Regions from separate parts of the Homo sapiens genome. Here region 1 is linked to region 2. The links come from fine-mapping of genetic effects on gene expression. A gene starts in region 2. The other region holds a variant in brackets. All regions are shown on one strand. Distances are from middle to middle.

What was found.
Region 1: its variant is fine-mapped to the expression of BCL2L12 in whole blood (TOPMed, PIP above 0.99).

Annotation. Positions count from the first base shown.
Region 1 is chr19:49,595,432-49,603,750 of GRCh38, reverse strand. PRR12 (proline rich 12) reads right to left here. Exons shown (of 14, transcript NM_020719.3): 4 at 5,738-8,319; 5 at 3,813-4,479; 6 at 1,833-2,260. Among named protein-coding and RNA genes, the nearest start is that of PRR12, 8.4 kb to the right of the region's middle. The variant T/C (reference allele first, on the strand shown) is at 3,761.
Region 2 is chr19:49,662,403-49,670,721 of GRCh38, reverse strand. It overlaps BCL2L12 (BCL2 like 12), which reads right to left and starts at 4,789. Exons shown (of 7, transcript NM_138639.2): 1 at 4,655-4,789; 2 at 3,923-4,037; 3 at 3,561-3,703; 4 at 1,785-1,871; 5 at 1,607-1,698; 6 at 234-506. The coding sequence starts at 4,029. It overlaps IRF3 (interferon regulatory factor 3), which reads left to right and starts at 4,865. Exons shown (of 8, transcript NM_001571.6): 1 at 4,865-5,091; 2 at 5,876-6,048; 3 at 7,208-7,379; 4 at 7,464-7,534; 5 at 8,105-8,297. The coding sequence starts at 5,884. RefSeq lists silencers at 4,617-4,696, 4,737-4,886.

The sequences.
Region 1 (8,319 bases), 67 kb after region 2:
AGATTAAATTAAAACAACATCCAGGACTAAATTATTATTATTATTATTTTTTCGAGATGGAGTCTTGCTCTGGTGCCCAGGTTGGAGTGCAGTGGCACAATCTCAGCTCACTGCAACCTCCCCCCTCCACCCCAGAGTTCAAGTGATCCTCCTTCCTCAGCCTCCCGAGTAGATGGGATCACAGGTGCGCCCTACCACGCCCAGTTAATTTTTTGTATTTTTAGTAAAGACGGGGTTTCACCATGTTGGCCAGGCTGGTCTCAAGCTCCTGACCTCAAGTGATCCACCTGCCTTGGCCTCCCGAAGTGCTGGGATTACAGGCGTGAACCGCCATGCCCCGCCAAGATTAAATGTCACACTGTACACGAAGGGCCAAACAATAATCCTGTATCATAATCAGTACAATCAATGACAATGATTGACATGGAGAATGGCCTTGGCGTCCATGCCACCATCAGGGTGAGAATGGGCTGACCTCCTGAGCACCTGCTCAGCCGCATGCCCTGTGCAGAGCACTCCATGGGCACCTGGTAACACCTACCCCTGTCAAGTGCCTTGCACATTAATCCTCTGATCCAACTCTATTTGTCCAGTGAACCCAGTACAGTAGAGGCCAGCAAACTTTATTCATGATGAGCCAGAGATATTTTTTGCCATTGAGGGCCAGCTAACTACCCAGCTCTCTGCCATATGGGAAAAACAGCCATAGACAACATGTAAATGAATGGGCATGGTTGTGTGCCAATAAAACTTTATTTGCAAAAACAAGCAGTGGGCTGGATTTGGCCTAGGGGCCATAGTTTTCAAGCTCCTGCGGTAGACAAACTGGAAGCAGTGAACAGGCTGTTGGTCTGCATTTACGTATTTAAGTATTTAAGGTAAATATTGAAGCTATGGCCAGCCAGGCACAGTGGCTCACACCTGTAATCCCAGCACTTTGGGAGGCCAAGGCAGGTGGGTCATCTGAGGTCAGGAGTTCGAGACCAGCCTGGCCAACACAGTGAAACCCCATTTCTACTAAAAACACAAAAATCAGCCGGGTGTGGTGGCCTGCGCCTGTAGTCCCAGATAGTTGGGAGGCCAAGTCAAGAGAATCGCTTGAACCTGGGAGGCAGAGGCTGCAGTGAGCCGAGATTGAGCCATCGCACTCCAGCCTGGACAAGAGCGAAACTCCATCTCAAAAAAACAAAAAGATATGGCCTGACACACAATAACCATTCCTAAATGATTCACTTTTTTTGTTTGTTTGAGAGAAAAGGTTTCATTATGTTGCCTAGGCTGGTCTCAAACTCCCAAAGTGCTGAGATTACAGGTGTAAGCTGCCGCGTCCGGCCCAATTCATGATTATATTTACAGGTTACATAAGTGTGTATCTGCAGGTAGTCTATGTCAATGACACATTTCCACCATTGTGCCATAAATGGCAAAGCAGCCCGCCTCTCTGGCTGGTTCCATTAAACTAGAAGCTCCCTAGGGCCAGAGCCTCATCTGCTTGTACAGTACTGGTCCTCTACCACCCACAGCAGGGTATCTGCATAAACATTAACAAGCGGTTCACCTTATATACAGGTAACGCACATATAGACACATACGCGTTAACAATCGCTTTACCTTATATACAGGTAATGCATGTACAGACACAAACGCAAATAACACCTCTGAGGCCCGCAGGTCCTCGACACCTCTATCAGCCCCATAGGACTGCAAATTCCAGGGCGGCCCGGCCACGACTGGATCTGCAGGTCTCAGCACAAGCCTGTCATCCAGCGGGCACTCAACAAACAGGTGACCAAACCCATCAGGCCCAGTTTCTGGAGAAGGCTGGGACTCACCTTGAGGGAAGGGATGTCCTCAGCACGGATGACGAACTCGTCCCGTTCCCGGAAGATGCCCTCTCCGCCACTCTCGCCGGCCTCCTCGTCCGTCTCCCCACACACTGCCGCCGTCTCCTGCTTTTTGGCCAGATGCAGGGGCCGGGTGTCCGGCAGCTCGGGGTCTTCGGGAGACGGGGCGGCGGGCTCCTCAGGAGGAGCAGCCAGTGGGGCAGCGGCTGGTGGGGGTGGTGGTGGAGGCGAGGGCATGGCTGGTGGAGGTGGCGGCGGCAGCGGCGGTGGCGGTGGTGAGCTGGGCGTGGGGGCCACCAGCGGGGGTGGCGAGGGCAGGGCTGGCTGTGGCGGCGGAGGGGGTGGCGGAGGCTGAGGCTGAGGAGTCGGGGCAGGAGGTGGAGTGGGTGGGGGTTTCTCCTCCAGCAGCGGGGGCTCTGGGGGAGACAGGGACATCAGGCCTGGATGTTATTCATCATTCCTGGCACCTTTCCTCTTGTCCTTTAAACACTGCTTTCTATACCAAAAGCCCCTCTGTAACTACCACTCAGCTCCCAGTGTCCCTTCTACCCTATCAGAGTCTCTCCAGAGACCTACTCTGGCTCCTGCGGCTGCAAAGGAGACCTGTCTCCTATCCCTAATCCCCTTCTCAGTCCTGGAATGTCTCTTTGTGGTCTTAAAGCCCTTGTCTGGTTCTTAACTCCTCTTCCTGAATGACCCTCCCAACTCCTAAATCATCACCTCCCTAACTCTACTTCCTCACCTCCTCTTCCTCCAAGGCCTCATCCTCCTCCCTCCAGGACCATCTTTGTCCTTTCCTTGGCCTGCTCACCAGTATGCAGACTGCTAACCTCTCCCCTGTCTGCCAGCTCCCTTCTTCAGGCTTTTTAAGAACCTCACAGAGGGCAGGCATGGTGGCTCATGCCTGTAATCCCAGCACTTTGGGAGGCTGAGGTGGGTGGATCACTTGAGGTCAGGAGTTCGAGACCAGTCTGGCCAACATGGTGAAACCCCGTCTCTACTAAAAATACAAAAATTAGCTGGGCATGGTGGTGCGCGCCTGTAGTCCCAGCTACTCGGGAGGCTGAGGCAGGAGAATCACTTGAACCTGGAAGGCAGAGGTTGCGGTGAGCGGAAGGCAGAGGTTGCAGTGAGCCAAGATCGCACCACTGCACTCCACACTCCAGCCTGGGTGACATAGAGAGACCCTGTCTCAAGAAAAAAAAAAAAGAACGTTATAGGGTCTTTTTGTTTTGTTTTTGGGGTTTTTTGTTTAAGACAGGGTCTTGCTCTGTCACCCAGGCTGGAGTACAGTGGCTCAATCATGGCTCACTGCAGCCTCAACCTCCTGGGCTCAAGCGATCCTCCTGTCTCAGCCTCCCAAAGTGTGCTAGGATTACAGGTGTGGTCCACCATGCCCGGCCTGTCATGGTTTTTTTTTTTTTTTGAACACTCCCCTCTGTGCCCTCCTGTAAGCTCCCACCTCTCATTTCCCAATGCCTCTGTTTCTGACATTACACTCCTTAAACTGTGTCCAAAACCAGAGCACAACCTAAACCCTTCCTATGCCCCTAGCCTTCCCTTCCACCGCCCACCCCCATCCCCAAGTCTTTCTCTGCCCCCAGACATCTTTCTGTACCTTCACACACAGTTGACTCAGAGCCCTCCTCAGTTCCCACACCTCCCACCATTCAGAACCTGAGTAGCCCCTGTCCTGTCCCTGTAACTTATCACCTGCCCTGTCTCCCTGCATTCTCCAGTGTCTGCCTTGGGGCCCCTCCTAGTCCACTTAGCACCTCTGAGTGAATTAGAAAAAGATAGACCTTCCTCAAAATGCTTGTGTAATCAGGAAAGTCCCTTCATAAACACGCAAGCTTACACCATGTATGTGAATGGTGTCTCTTAAACAGTGCGTAACCTGCACAACTGTTACCTAG[T/C]GATCATAATAACCTTTAAGCTCTACTCCCAGACCACCTGCCCAGAGCTCACCGGGAGTGCCATTGCTGTTGGCACTGGGGAGCCCCGGAAGAGGGGGTGGCCCTGGAACTGCAGCCGCGGGGGCCAAGGGCGGCCCATCTGGGGTGGAAGTGTCTTTTGGCCCAGCAAGGGGTGGGTCATCGAGGGCAGAGATGGCGGAGGAGATGCTCTCCTGCAGGTCTCGGTTCTTGGCGACAGAGTCTTCCTCATCCGAGGAGAAGGAGGGCAGCGTCTCGAGGTTCCGCTTCAGCTCCTCATCAAGCCGCTTGCAGGGTGAAGGGCAGCCAAGCCCCAGACCCTCACTCTCTGCAGCCTCCAGGGCGCCCCCAAGCCCAAAGGCTCCGGAAGGTGGGGGATGTGGCACAGCAGGGGTGGCAGGGGGCTGGGGCTGCAGGCCTCGGGCTGGCACAGAGGGTGGCACACTCTTGGGAGGGCTGAGCGGAGGCGTCAGGCCCGCCTGGTAGAGTGGTGGGTGGCGCTTGCCTGACTTGAGGAAGTCCAAGAAGGAGGCCATGAAACCCGACTTCATCTCCGGCTGCTTCTCCTCCACCTCCTTAATCTTGGCCTCGATCTTCTCCCGAGTCAGGCTCGAGTCCAGGCTGTTGTGGTCAGTGCCTGATATGGCATCACCCGATGAGGTTCCCAGACCCTCGCCAGCCTTGGGCACAGACAGCTTGATCTAGACATGGGAGTGGCGGGCCGTGAGGGCCCAGTAGCCTGGGCCCCCAGTCCCATCCTCCCTCAGCCCCCAAAAATCCAAATTTACAGGTGCTCAGCCTGTGAATTTATAGAATTCAAACCTGCAGACCCCTTGTCTTAGATTCTAGGAGGACAAGACTGGAGTTCCTCCCTCAGAAGACCAGGAACTTGGACTCACTGAGCCTCTTCACTTACAGCCCAGTTCAGGTCCCTAGACCCGCTTCCCATGAGACCCAGGAATGTAGGATCCCTGAATGCCCATCCTTTGGGATATAGAAACTAAAAGCAAGCAGACCGGGTGAGGTGGCTCGTGCCTGTAATCCCAGCACCTTGGGAGACTGAGGCAGGCAAATCACTTGAGGTCAGGAGTTTCAAACCAGCGTAAGCTCCAACCTCCTGCCTCTCTCCCTAAACCCAGAATTTCCTTTATCTCTTGAGACAGGGTCTCACTCTGTGGCCCAGGCCACAGTGATGCAATCATAGCTCCCTGCAGCCTTGAACTCCTGGGCTCAAGAGATCCTCCCACCTCAACCTCTTGAGTAGCTGGGACTGTAGGTACACGCAGCCACACCTGGCTAAATTTTTGTGTTTTTAATAGAGACCAGGGTCTCACTACGCTGACCAGGCTGGTCTCGAACATCTGGGTTCAAGAGATCCTCCCGCCTCAGTCTCCCAAAGCGCTGGGATTACAGGCATGAACCACACTGCCCAGCCTAGATTCAGAATTTCAATTCTTAGGTCTTTCTGTCAGTGAGACCCTGAAATTCCTCACGCTAACTTCCTCACAGATTTTAGAAATGTAAACCTTATTATCCCCCTGCCCCAAAAATGCCAAGGTGCGGCCATAAACCTGTCCTTTAAGACTCAAAACATCGGGAGGCCGGGCGCGGTGGCTCAGGTCTGTAATCCCAGCACTTTGGGAGGCCGAGGCGGGTGGATCACGAGGCCAGGAGATCGAGACCATCCTGACTAATACGGTGAAACCCCGTCTCTACTAAAAATACAAAAAAACTAGCCGGGCGTGGTGGCGGGCAACTGTAGTCCCAGCTACTCGGGAGGCTGAGGCAGGAGAATGGCGTGAACCCGGGAGGCGGAGCTTGCAGTGAACCGAGATCGTGCCACTGCACTCCAGCCTGGACGACAGAGCGAGACTCTGTCTCAAAAAAAAAAAAAAAAGACTCAAACATCGGACACAGCTCCTCCTCCCCTATCCCCTACAAGACCCCATTTCCCCTCACCTTAAGTGGCTTCAGGGGCTCCAACCGGGTGCCCCCTGCCTCCTCAGCCTTTCGACCCCGGCCTCGGCCCCGGCCCCGGGGTTTCTTGGCGCCATCGGTGGGCGTGGAGGCCGAGGCGGGCCCCGCAGTGGTCGGGACCTCCAGGGGGCGGATCCGGGGCCTCCCCCGTGGCCGGGGTGGCCCATCACGTTTCGCCTTCGTGGGCTTGCGGCCACGGCGCCGGGGGCCATCGGGTCCTGGGTTGGGTGGGCAGAAGTCGATGTCCCCCAGTGGCGAGAGGGCCGGACGGGAGCGGCAGCTGGAGACCAGGTCAGGCAAGCGCCGGGGGTTGAGGCGGATGTCGGCGGGAACATCGGCCTTGTCCTCGTCCGCCTCGAACTCGTACTCCTGGGCGTACAGCTTCTTGGGGGTCTGGAAGGGTGGGTCGCGGCGCCGCAGCAGGTGGAAGGAGGATGTCTTGAGCAGCTTCTTTGGCTTGGTAGAGCAGAAGATGGGCGAGGTGAGGCCACCCTTGGGTTCGGAGGCCGGCGCGGGAGGCGGCGGTGGCGGAGGCGGGGGTGGTGGCGCCGCCTGGTGGGGGCCACTCTGGATCAGGCCCAGCGGCTCGGCGTTGACCGTGGAGGGCAGTTCAGGCGGTTTGTTGGGGTCCAGGCCCAGGCCCGGTGTCTCGGGCCCGGCTCCCGACGCCCGGCCAGGACAGTAGGGCCCATAGGGATCATAAGCAGGGGGGCCGGGGGGTGGCCCAGCGCCAGCCTTGGGGTCCCCCTCGTCCTCAGGTGGCCCGGCCTTGCCGTAGTCGTCCGCGGCCCCTCCACCGAACATCTCCTCCATGGTGGGGAAGAAGCTGCGCTCCTCGTCTTGGAGCAAGGAGTCAGGGAAGCAGATGGAGGTGAGCGGCACGAAACGCGGCGCCTTGGTGCCTTGCGGGCTGGGGCTGCGGTAGGCGCCTGCGGGATCCTTGCCCTCCGAGTTTGGTGGGCCTACGCCAGTATCCCCAGGCGCCGGGGGCAGCGGCTCCAGAGCCCCGAGCAATTCCTGCATGGCGCCTGGCGGATCCAGGCTCTCCTCGGGTCGCAGGCGGGGGCTGGGGGCCGCGGGCTCCAGGCCATGGCTGCGGAGGTGGGCCTCGAGCTGCAGGGGCATGGGTGGTGGAGGCGGGGGTGGCGGTGGAGGTGGCTGGGGTGCCCCATCGCGGGTGGCTGGCTCAAGGAGGTGGACGCCGACTTTGGAGGCGCTGGGAGAGGGACTGGGGGCATGGCTGAGGACCGAGGGGAGCAGCTGGGGGGGAGGCGGAGGCAGCACCAGTGGGAGGTCAGGGCCCCCGGCCTCCAGAAGGAGGCCATGGGGAGTGGGCTGGGTAGACTGGGCCGTGGGAGGTGGGGGCGGAGGGCTCTTTTGCAAGAAGGCCCCCAGCTCCTTGGCGCCTGCCCCGTAGTGGACAACAGAGGTGGCCAGCCCCTCGGGGGTCTCGCCACCCCGCTCTGGCCCTTTCTTCTTCTCCTTCAGCCTCCCCAGGCCCAGCTCCAGTGCCGCAGTGGCACCCTCATCCAGGCTGGCACTGGTGCGGATGACACTCTGCAGGTGGTACCTCTGGGGGTCTTCCTTGGCCAACTCGTAGGGTGTACCCGGTGGTCCCCCGGCCCCGCCACTCCCCCCAAGTCCCTTAGAGGCATCTGCTGCCCCGTCCTCGCCCACCAAGCCGTCCGCCCCTGAGGTCCGAGGAGGGCTGGGCGCCTGCAAGAGGTGCTGGATAAGGAACTCCTCATCCTCTGTGCGCTCCGCAGGAGGCCCACCTGGGCCCGCCAGCAGCTCCGAGCCATCCCCCTTGCCCTTGTAGCCACCTGCTCCGGCTGCATAGCTGCCAGCTCCCGGAGGTGCCAGGAAAGGCGCTGAGGCCAAGACTGAGCTCAGGTATTTGCCAGGGGCTCCTGGAGAGCCGACTCCAGGTGGACGGCCGGTGGCAGGCGGTGACTGGAGCGGACGAATGATGTGAGATGGGCTGGCCTCACCGCCGCCTCCCAGGGAGCTGGGTCCCCAGCCACCCCCATGGCCCGAGAGCGCTGGGGAATGGCCGGTACTGTAGCTGAGCGAGGGGCTGGCTGTGGGCAGCCCCTGGGAGTGGGCGGCTGGCCCTGGGTATGGCTCGCCCTGCACCCCATACAGCTGCCCCTGCAGCTGGTCCGGGGAGTAGCTCTGACATGTGGCCAGGCCAGGAGGAGGGGGGCCGCTGGGGGGCTGTGGGGGGCCCCCTGAGTAGCTGGGGGCTTTGCTCAAGTCCTGTGCCTGCCCCCCTCCAAACCCTTGCCCGTAGGCCTGGGGTCCCAGAAGCCCTTGAGGCTGACCGGGGGAATAAGCCTGGCCCCCTGCCCCTCCAGCCCCAGAGGCCTTCCCAGTGGCATAGGCGGCTGCTGGCCCACCCAGGCTCTGACATTTGGGGGTGGCGGTCGAACGGGGTGGGGGGGGCCTGGTGGCACCCCCGGCAGCTGCTCCATAACCACCTTTGCCCGTCTTGTACCCAGGCGACTGAATGATGGGGCGGTAACCTCCACCACCACCCCCAGCCCCACCGCCCCCTGCTGCCT
Region 2 (8,319 bases):
CTCAGTCACTGGTTTCACGCTCACAGTATTAGCGTACCCAGTCGTTGACGCCAGGCATAGTGTCTGCACTCATCGCTGCAGTCCTGGCATACAGCAAGGGCTCAACAGAACGAACGCAGTGGAGCTGGGAGAATACCTGAGGTCTGAGAGGAACCTAAGAAGTCCCCGCCCCTCCTCTATCACATGACAGTTAGGTAAAGTGAGGCCCGGAGAGAGAGGCTTCAGCGGCTCACCCAGCCCCCGTGGGCCTGGATCCAGGGCGTGAAGCTGTGCACGTGCTCCACGCTGAGTCCGGCCAGGGTGCCCCCCAGCCCGGCCACGCGCCGGCTCAGCTCCATGGCTAGGGCCAGGCGGGCCAGGGGCTCCGGGGAAGGAGGCGGGGGCCCGGGGCATGCTCGGCTTGGGCGAGAGCTGTCATCCCGGCTACAGAACAGCTCCACCAGGCGGGCGAAAGAGTCGGAGGACAGGCGGACCAGCTTGCTGCGCAGGGCGGGGTCCGAGGCCAGCTGTAGGGTGGAAGAGGCAGGGTCCGCGTCAGCAGCGCCCCCGGGGCCAGCCAATAGAGGGCCGGGAGGCGTGGCTTCCCGGTTCAGGATCGTTCTAGATGCTAAGGTTCTAGGCCACCCCTCATCCATATTAGCCAATCAAGCCAGACTCCAGGGTCTCTGCCAAACTACCCCCGGGATAGTGGCCTGGAACGTGAGTCCCTAAGCCATGCCAGGCCCTTGCCTCAACAGCCAATCAGGGCCAATCTCTACTGTAACTGAGTTAATCTAGCCATGCCCCTGGTGACCTTTCCCAGGGGCCAACCTAGTGTCTACAACAATCTTGCCCTCTACCATTCAATTAATATTAAAGGACGATGTACCTTGTCCAAGCTCCGAAGCCAATCAGATTCCAGGACACAGCCACAAGCCACACCTCCTCTGGTAGTACATTTTCCCCTACATTCTAAGCCAGGTCCCTTCTATGCTCAGTAAGATTTTAGCCACTCCCCCCACCCCCACATTCATTCACTTACTTCCCCAGCTTGGCCAGTCTCTTGTGGATAATGTTTCTGATGGCCACACCCTCTGCATTTAGGCCATGCCCCTCTAAACAATCAATTAAAACAACTAATTTACGGTACAGTACTACCCTAACCATACCCCTGTCATTCAACTATTCTTTTTTTTTTTTTTTTTTAAAGACAGAGTCTCACTCTGTCACCCAGGCTGGAGTGCAGTGGCGCAATCTTGGCTCACTGCAACCTCCACCTCCTGGGCTCAAGCGATTCTCCTGCCTCAGCCTTCTGAGTAGCTGGGATTACAGAAGCGCACCACCACACCTGTCCGATTTTTGTATTTTTAGTAGAGATGGGGTTTCACCATGTTGGCCAGGCTGGTCTCGAACTCCTGACCTCAAGTCATCCACCCAACTCGGCCTCCCAAAGTGCTGGGATTACAGGCGTGAGCCACCACACCCGGCCTCAACCCTTCATTGAAACCTTGTCCCAGCCTCTTTCCACCTGACCATCCAAAGAAAATACAGATCCAGCTTCTGATCCCAGTGCCCCACCATTCCGCAACTCCTGTCCTTGCCAAGGAGTGGGACAGATGCCCATCACCTTCTGGTTAATGACTTCTGCCTCCTCCTCCAGCAGGGCCACCAGCCTCCGCAGTATGGCTTCCTTCTCTGTCGATGGGGGACCCTGTAATTCTGGAGGCAGAAGAGAATTTGGCTGGGGGCAGAACCCTGACTATCCTCCCACCGCCATCCTTCTCTGGGGCTCCTCTGTGCCTCACCTGGGCTGGGCGGAGATTTCAGCTGCTCTTGGACCAGCTGTTCCAGCCGCTGGGCCACCAAAGCATAGAAGTCTGGAGTAGCTGGGCCTGGGGTGAAAAGAGTTAATGACAGGTTTCCAGGACATTGGAAACTTACGGATTCTCTCCTTCCCCCAACTACCTTGGCAGGTGGCAATGATTCCCATTTTATTTATTATTTATTTATGTATTGATTTTGGGAAACGGAGTCTCGCAATTCTCCTGCCTCAGCCTCATGAGTAGCTGGGACTACAGGCGCACGCCGCCATACCTGGCTAATTTTTTGTATTTTAGTAGAAATGGGGTTTCACCGTGTTGCCCAGGCTGACCTCAGGCAATCCACCCACCTCAGCCTCCCAAAGTGCTAGGATTACAGGCGTGAGCAACCAAGCCTGGCCATGATTCCCATTTTATAATGGGGTAAACTGAGGCCCAGTGAGAAAACTTGGTTAAAAATGCCAAAACCCTTGTACTTTTCACTTTATGAGATCCTCAGACTGGACTTAGAATGTCAGAGCTGGGGCCAGGCGCAGTGGCTCACGCCTGTAATCCCATCACTTTGGGAGGCTGAGGCAGGCAGATCACCTGAGGTTGGGAGTTCGAGAGCAGCCTGACCAACATGGAGAAACCCCATCTCTACTAAAAATACAAAAAAAATTAGCCGGGCATGGTGGCGCATGCCTATAATCCCAGCTACTTGGGAGGCTGAGGCAGGAGAATTACTTGAACCCGGGAGGTAGAGGTTGTGGTGAGCCGAGATCGGGCCATTGCACTCCAGCCTGGGCAACAAGGGCGAAACTCCGTCTCAAAAAAAAAAAAAAAAAAAAGAATGTCAGAGCTGACAGGGTGCGGTGGCTCACGTCTGCAATCTCAACATTTTGGGAGGCCGACGTGGGAGGGTCACTTGAGGCCAGGAGTTTGAGGCCAGCCTGGCCAACGTGGCGAAACCCCGTGTCTACTAAAAGTATAAAAATCAGCTAGTATGCTGGCGTGCACCTGTAATCCCAGTCACTCGGGAGGCTGAGGCACGAGAATCGCTTGAACCCAGGAGGTGGGGATTGCAGTGAGTCGAGATTGCACCCCTGCACTCCAGCCTGGGTGACAGAGCAACAATCTGTCTCCAAAAGACTGTCAGAGCTCAACTAGACCTTGAAGATGATCTCATCCAAGGAAGGCAAACACAAGACATTACTGTTAGTATCCCCTTCCCTCACTCACTACAGACATCACCAATTGATCACAGCACTTCCTCTCCCAAGCTGTGAACCCCTTTTCAAGCTAGCACTCCCAGCAGCCATTACTAGTCTGTCCAGGTTCACACCTATGAGGAAACTTGTGGGTCACCTTGATCAAGTCCAGTGACCTCCTCCCCAATTCCTACTCTGCTATTGGAAAAACAGGGGAGCAGGGAAGAGAAAGCATTTTCCCCAGAGTCACGCAACTAAAACAGCCAGGGAGATGTGATTGAAAACCAGCCCTTCTGCCCCTCTATCAGGGGTATTCCTGGCTACAAAAGTCCTAGGGGCAGGGAAGTAGTTATGGAAGGAAAGAGACAACAACCAGATTGACCAAATGCTCTCTGAAAGCCAACCCACAGAATTGACAGAAATCTAACTGGGGAGGGGAGAGGACAGGACGGTTCTGTCCTGAAGGCTGGTGCTAGAGACTCCACACAGCCACCCCCTAGCTGAGTGATCTTAAACTAGCACCTTATCCCGTGTTCTGCCGGCTTCATAGATGATCATGGAAATCTCTTACCAGGCTCTAAACCATAGCAGGGGCGGATGGGCAGAGAGCAAGGCCGAGGGGACTCAGAGGGGGCTGCTCCTCGCCCCAGGGAGCAGGGAAGACATCTTCGAAGGCGGCTCAGGAAGTCTGTTGGCTCTTCTTGGGCAGGGCTTCTGGAGAGGAGGACTTCAGAGACTGACCCCACCAGAGATCCCCTGCAAGCAGTCTCTTTCCCCAACTCCCTCCCTCCCCCGCTGAGGACCTCTCTCCAAAACCCCAAAGACAGAGAATAGAGCCAGATATAAAGAGAGGAGACAGACTGAGACCAGGAGCAAGAGTTAGGAGGGAGCCTCAAATGCTGGCCCCTGGGGGAGAAGGGCCACTCCTCTTACCTAGGTGGAGTTGGAACAGGAGACCCGGCAGCCTCACCACGCCTAAGGAAGGCAGCTAGGACCCTCAGCGTGTCTTCCCGGAGCCCCAGCTCTTCAGAGCCTGCCATGGAGGCACCTGTGAGAGAGAGGGTTAGGGACTGGACTCCAAGGGTTTAGCAAGAAGTGGAGGCTTGGGGACCAGGACTTGTGAGTCCCAAGGAAGGTGCTGAGGGCCTGGACTCCTGGGTCCTTTGGAGAGTGTGGGTCTGGGGGCCTAGACTCTTGAGTCCTCAGACGAAAAAGCGATCAGGAAAAAGACTCTTCGATCCAAGGAAAGGTGGTGGGGCTGGGTGCCCAGATTCGTGGGTCTAAAGGAGGAGGGAGCTGGGGTCCTGGACTTCTGAGTCTTAGAGAAAAAGGAACTGGAGCCCCAGACCCTTAGGTCTCCCAGGAAGAAGAGGCTTAGCGCCCCAACTCCTGGATTCTATAAGAGGCATATGCCAAACTCCTGAAACCCTTAAAGCATCGGGAACTACCAATCCCAAGAGGTTTCAGGGCAAATCTTCCCCTAGGTCCGCGCTTCTTCGCCGCGCAGCCTGCTGTGAGGTGTAGTTCCAAATCTCCGACCCCTGCTGGAATCTAGAGGACCCTGGACCCTTGGATATCAGAGAAGCGGGACTGGGGTGCCCACCACTGGATCCCGGCCCCCTCCTCTTCCCTCCTCACCCCACCCCTCGTCAACACCCCGCTGACCTGGTCCGGGGCCCCACCGCCGCCTCCTCCACTCAACTTGCGGTCTCCTCCACTGAACTCGTACAAACTTTATTAGTTCAACTTTCCCGCGCCTGCGCACTGGGCCGGGTCGATAACCGGCCCAGCGTAGAAAGGGCGGAACGCTGGGTGCACGCTCAATTTGCATGTGACGCTCCCAGCATGCCTCTGGCCGGAAACCCAAAAAAGGGCATAGGGGCGGGAACAGCCCAGCGGGCCGTCCCATCGGCTTTTGGGTCTGTTACCCAAAGAATGATAAAGTTGGTTTTATTTCAAGAAGTCGATCAAAAAGAAAGCCCCAGCGCTCTAGAGCTCAGCTGACGGGAAAGGGGGTGCGCAGCCTCGAGTTTGAGAGCTACCCGGAGCTCCAAGACAGGGGTGGGTTCCAGCTGCCCGCACGCCCCGACCTTCCATCGTAGGTAACGCGGAAGAGCCCGGGAGAGCGTTGGTGGCGTCCGAGAGCGAGGAGCGGGAAAGAGGATGGGTCTGCACGGAGAGTGGAAAGGCAGGCTGTGTACTCTGGGGAAAGTGGAGCAAGGAAGGAGCTACAGTGGCCGACGCTGGAGGTCGGCTGCAGAAAAACTAGAAAAAGTAGGGAGGAAAGAGGAAAAGAGGAGGCGTCTACACTGAGGGGGTTCTAGAGAGGGAGGGGTGGACTCCGTAGATGGGGGTAGTTCAGTCTCGAAACCTGGGGCGTGCTCTGTCCTGGAGGAGGGAGGCGGGCAGTCGGAGGGGAATTGAATGGAAGTTCTGTGTTGGAAATGTTTTGGGAGATCTTCTGTAGGGGGACTGTGGAAGGGGGTCTACATTGGGGTAAGTGCAGGAGGTAGAGGCTTACACGTGAATCGATTCTGCACTGAAATAACTAGGGAAAGAGGATGCTACCCTGAAAGTGGGGATACTTACTTTCGATGATGTGGGGGAGGGAGGAGGTCTATACTGGCGGAATTGAGGGAGTGGAGGGTCTGCACTGAAGACGCTGGGGAAGGATGTGCCATGGATATGGGAAGGAACCCTAGCTGATTAGAGAGCCTCTCGGGAGGATGGGAGGATGGGAAGAGGAGGTTTCCTGTTTGTACCCCCGAAAATATGGGTGAAGGACCTGTGCCGTGGCCCGTGAGAAGGAGGTCTGGGTGCGGAAACTCCAGGCCAGGTGGGTCCGGGGGAGGCCGGTCGCGCCCAGGAAATGCCCTATACGCGCAGGCCGGACCATGGGAACCCCAAAGCCACGGATCCTGCCCTGGCTGGTGTCGCAGCTGGACCTGGGGCAACTGGAGGGCGTGGCCTGGGTGAACAAGAGCCGCACGCGCTTCCGCATCCCTTGGAAGCACGGCCTACGGCAGGATGCACAGCAGGAGGATTTCGGAATCTTCCAGGTGCGTGCGACGACCTGGGACGCTGGAAACCCGGAGCTGCGCGCTGGGCGGAAAGGACTCCTAGTGGGCCCGGCTGAGAAGGCGGAGGTGGCGCGCGAGGGGCGGGCTCGTGCCAACGCTGGTGGGTGGGGCTAGAACGGGAGGGGCGGGGCTAGCCGGATCCGCTGACTGATGGTGGGGCGCAAGCAGGGTTGGAGCTGCAGGGTTACGGGAATAAAACCGGGAAAGCCGGTTAGTACGCAAAGGAAATGCATCCTGGGGGTTTGGGGCTTTCTAGAGGCCGGGGCTCTTGGTTGTAGGATAGATACTGGGGGATGGTTCTTGAAACATCAGAGGTGAGGCCTGGAGCCCCAAATCTGAGGTTCCTAACTACCGAATTAGTATATGCCAGAGGTGGTAAACAGTGTGAGGGGCGGGGTTATCACAGAGGGTGTCGCGGGGCAGGTGGTGCACGGGATTAGACACCAAGTTGGACTTGGAAGCCTGGCTTAGAAAGAAAAGGTTTTTGGGCCGGGGGCGGTGGTTCACACCTGTAATCCTAGCACTTTGCAAGGCCAAGGCGGGAGGATCGCTTGAGCCCAGGAGTTTGAGGCCAGCTTGGGCAACATAGGCTCCATCTCTTTAAAAACAAAAGCGAAACAAAACAAAAACCAAAGAGGTTTCAAAGGCTTTTGAAGAGGCCGAGCACAGTAGCTCATGCCTGTAATCCCAGCACTTTGGGAGGCCGAGGAGGACGGATCACCTGAGGTCAGGAGTTCAAGACCAGCCTGGCCAACATGGTGAAACCCCATCTCTACTAAAAATACAAAAATTAGCCAGGTGTAGTGGTGCCCACCTGTAATCCCAGCTACTCAGGAGGCTGAGACAGGAGAATCGCTTGAACCGGGGAGGCGGAAGTTGCAGTGAGCTGAGATTGCACCATTGCATTCCAGCCTGGGTGACAGGAGTGAAACTCCATCTCAAAAAGAAAAAAAGCCTTTTGAAAACTAGAGGTGGGGGATGGAGGTAGGTGGGACGGGGGGATTTGGGGATGGACCTTGCAGAGTTAGAACTTGCCAGGGAAAGAGGGTGGTGTTAGGACTCGGGAGACAGGGTTAGGGCCCCAGGAGCAGGATCTAAGTCGTCCTCCCCCACCATCCTGACACCACTGTTGCCCCAGGCCTGGGCCGAGGCCACTGGTGCATATGTTCCCGGGAGGGATAAGCCAGACCTGCCAACCTGGAAGAGGAATTTCCGCTCTGCCCTCAACCGCAAAGAAGGGTTGCGTTTAGCAGAGGACCGGAGCAAGGACCCTCACGACCCACATAAAATCTACGAGTTTGTGAACTCAGGTCTGCCAGCTTGGGGTTCGTGTGGGAGGCTGGGGCCCCAAGGGTTCCTGGCACTCCTACTCCCCTCACCACTTTTCTCAACAGGAGTTGGGGACTTTTCCCAGCCAGACACCTCTCCGGACACCAATGGTGGAGGCAGTACTTCTGATACCCAGGTGAGAATGTGCCCAACTTTCATGCCCCTCAGTCTCCGACCTGTCTCCATGGGCCTTGTCCTCTCCCTCTAGACGATCCCCCCACTCCCCTGCCTCCAGCCTGCCCCTCACCTGAGCCAGTGCTGACCCTGTCTGTCCCTGCCCCGGTCTCCTCAGGAGAAAATTCCAAGTCTTCACCCAGCATTCAAGGCCCGAGCACACCTTCCCGGGATTTCATGGATTTCGATTCGCAGGGGGCTGTCAGCCTCTTGGGAACTGAAAAACTCCCTCACCTTGATCCTGCTGAGGCCCAAGCTGGGGGAGCATCCCCTCTGAAATTCTACCCAGCCTGCTTTGCCCAGGTCTTACCTGCATAGAGCCAGATCCTTGGGTTGGAATGGTAGCACCTGGCGTTCATTAGTGTTTGTTTGGCTGTTGATGCCATGGCTGGCTCTGTCCCCAGGCTGGAAGCCCCTTGAAGGCAGAGCTCAAGCCTGACCTCCCTGCGTTGCTGAGAACAGACCTGGTCCATATGAAGTCTCCAGAAAAGGATATGGAAATGCCTGATTCTCTTTTTTTGTTTCCCTCCAGGAAGACATTCTGGATGAGTTACTGGGTAACATGGTGTTGGCCCCACTCCCAGATCCGGGACCCCCAAGCCTGGCTGTAGCCCCTGAGCCCTGCCCTCAGCCCCTGCGGAGCCCCAGCTTGGACAATCCCACTCCCTTCCCAAACCTGGGGCCCTCTGAGAACCCACTGAAGCGGCTGTTGGTGCCGGGGGAAGGTGAGTGTCAGCTGCAGGCTGG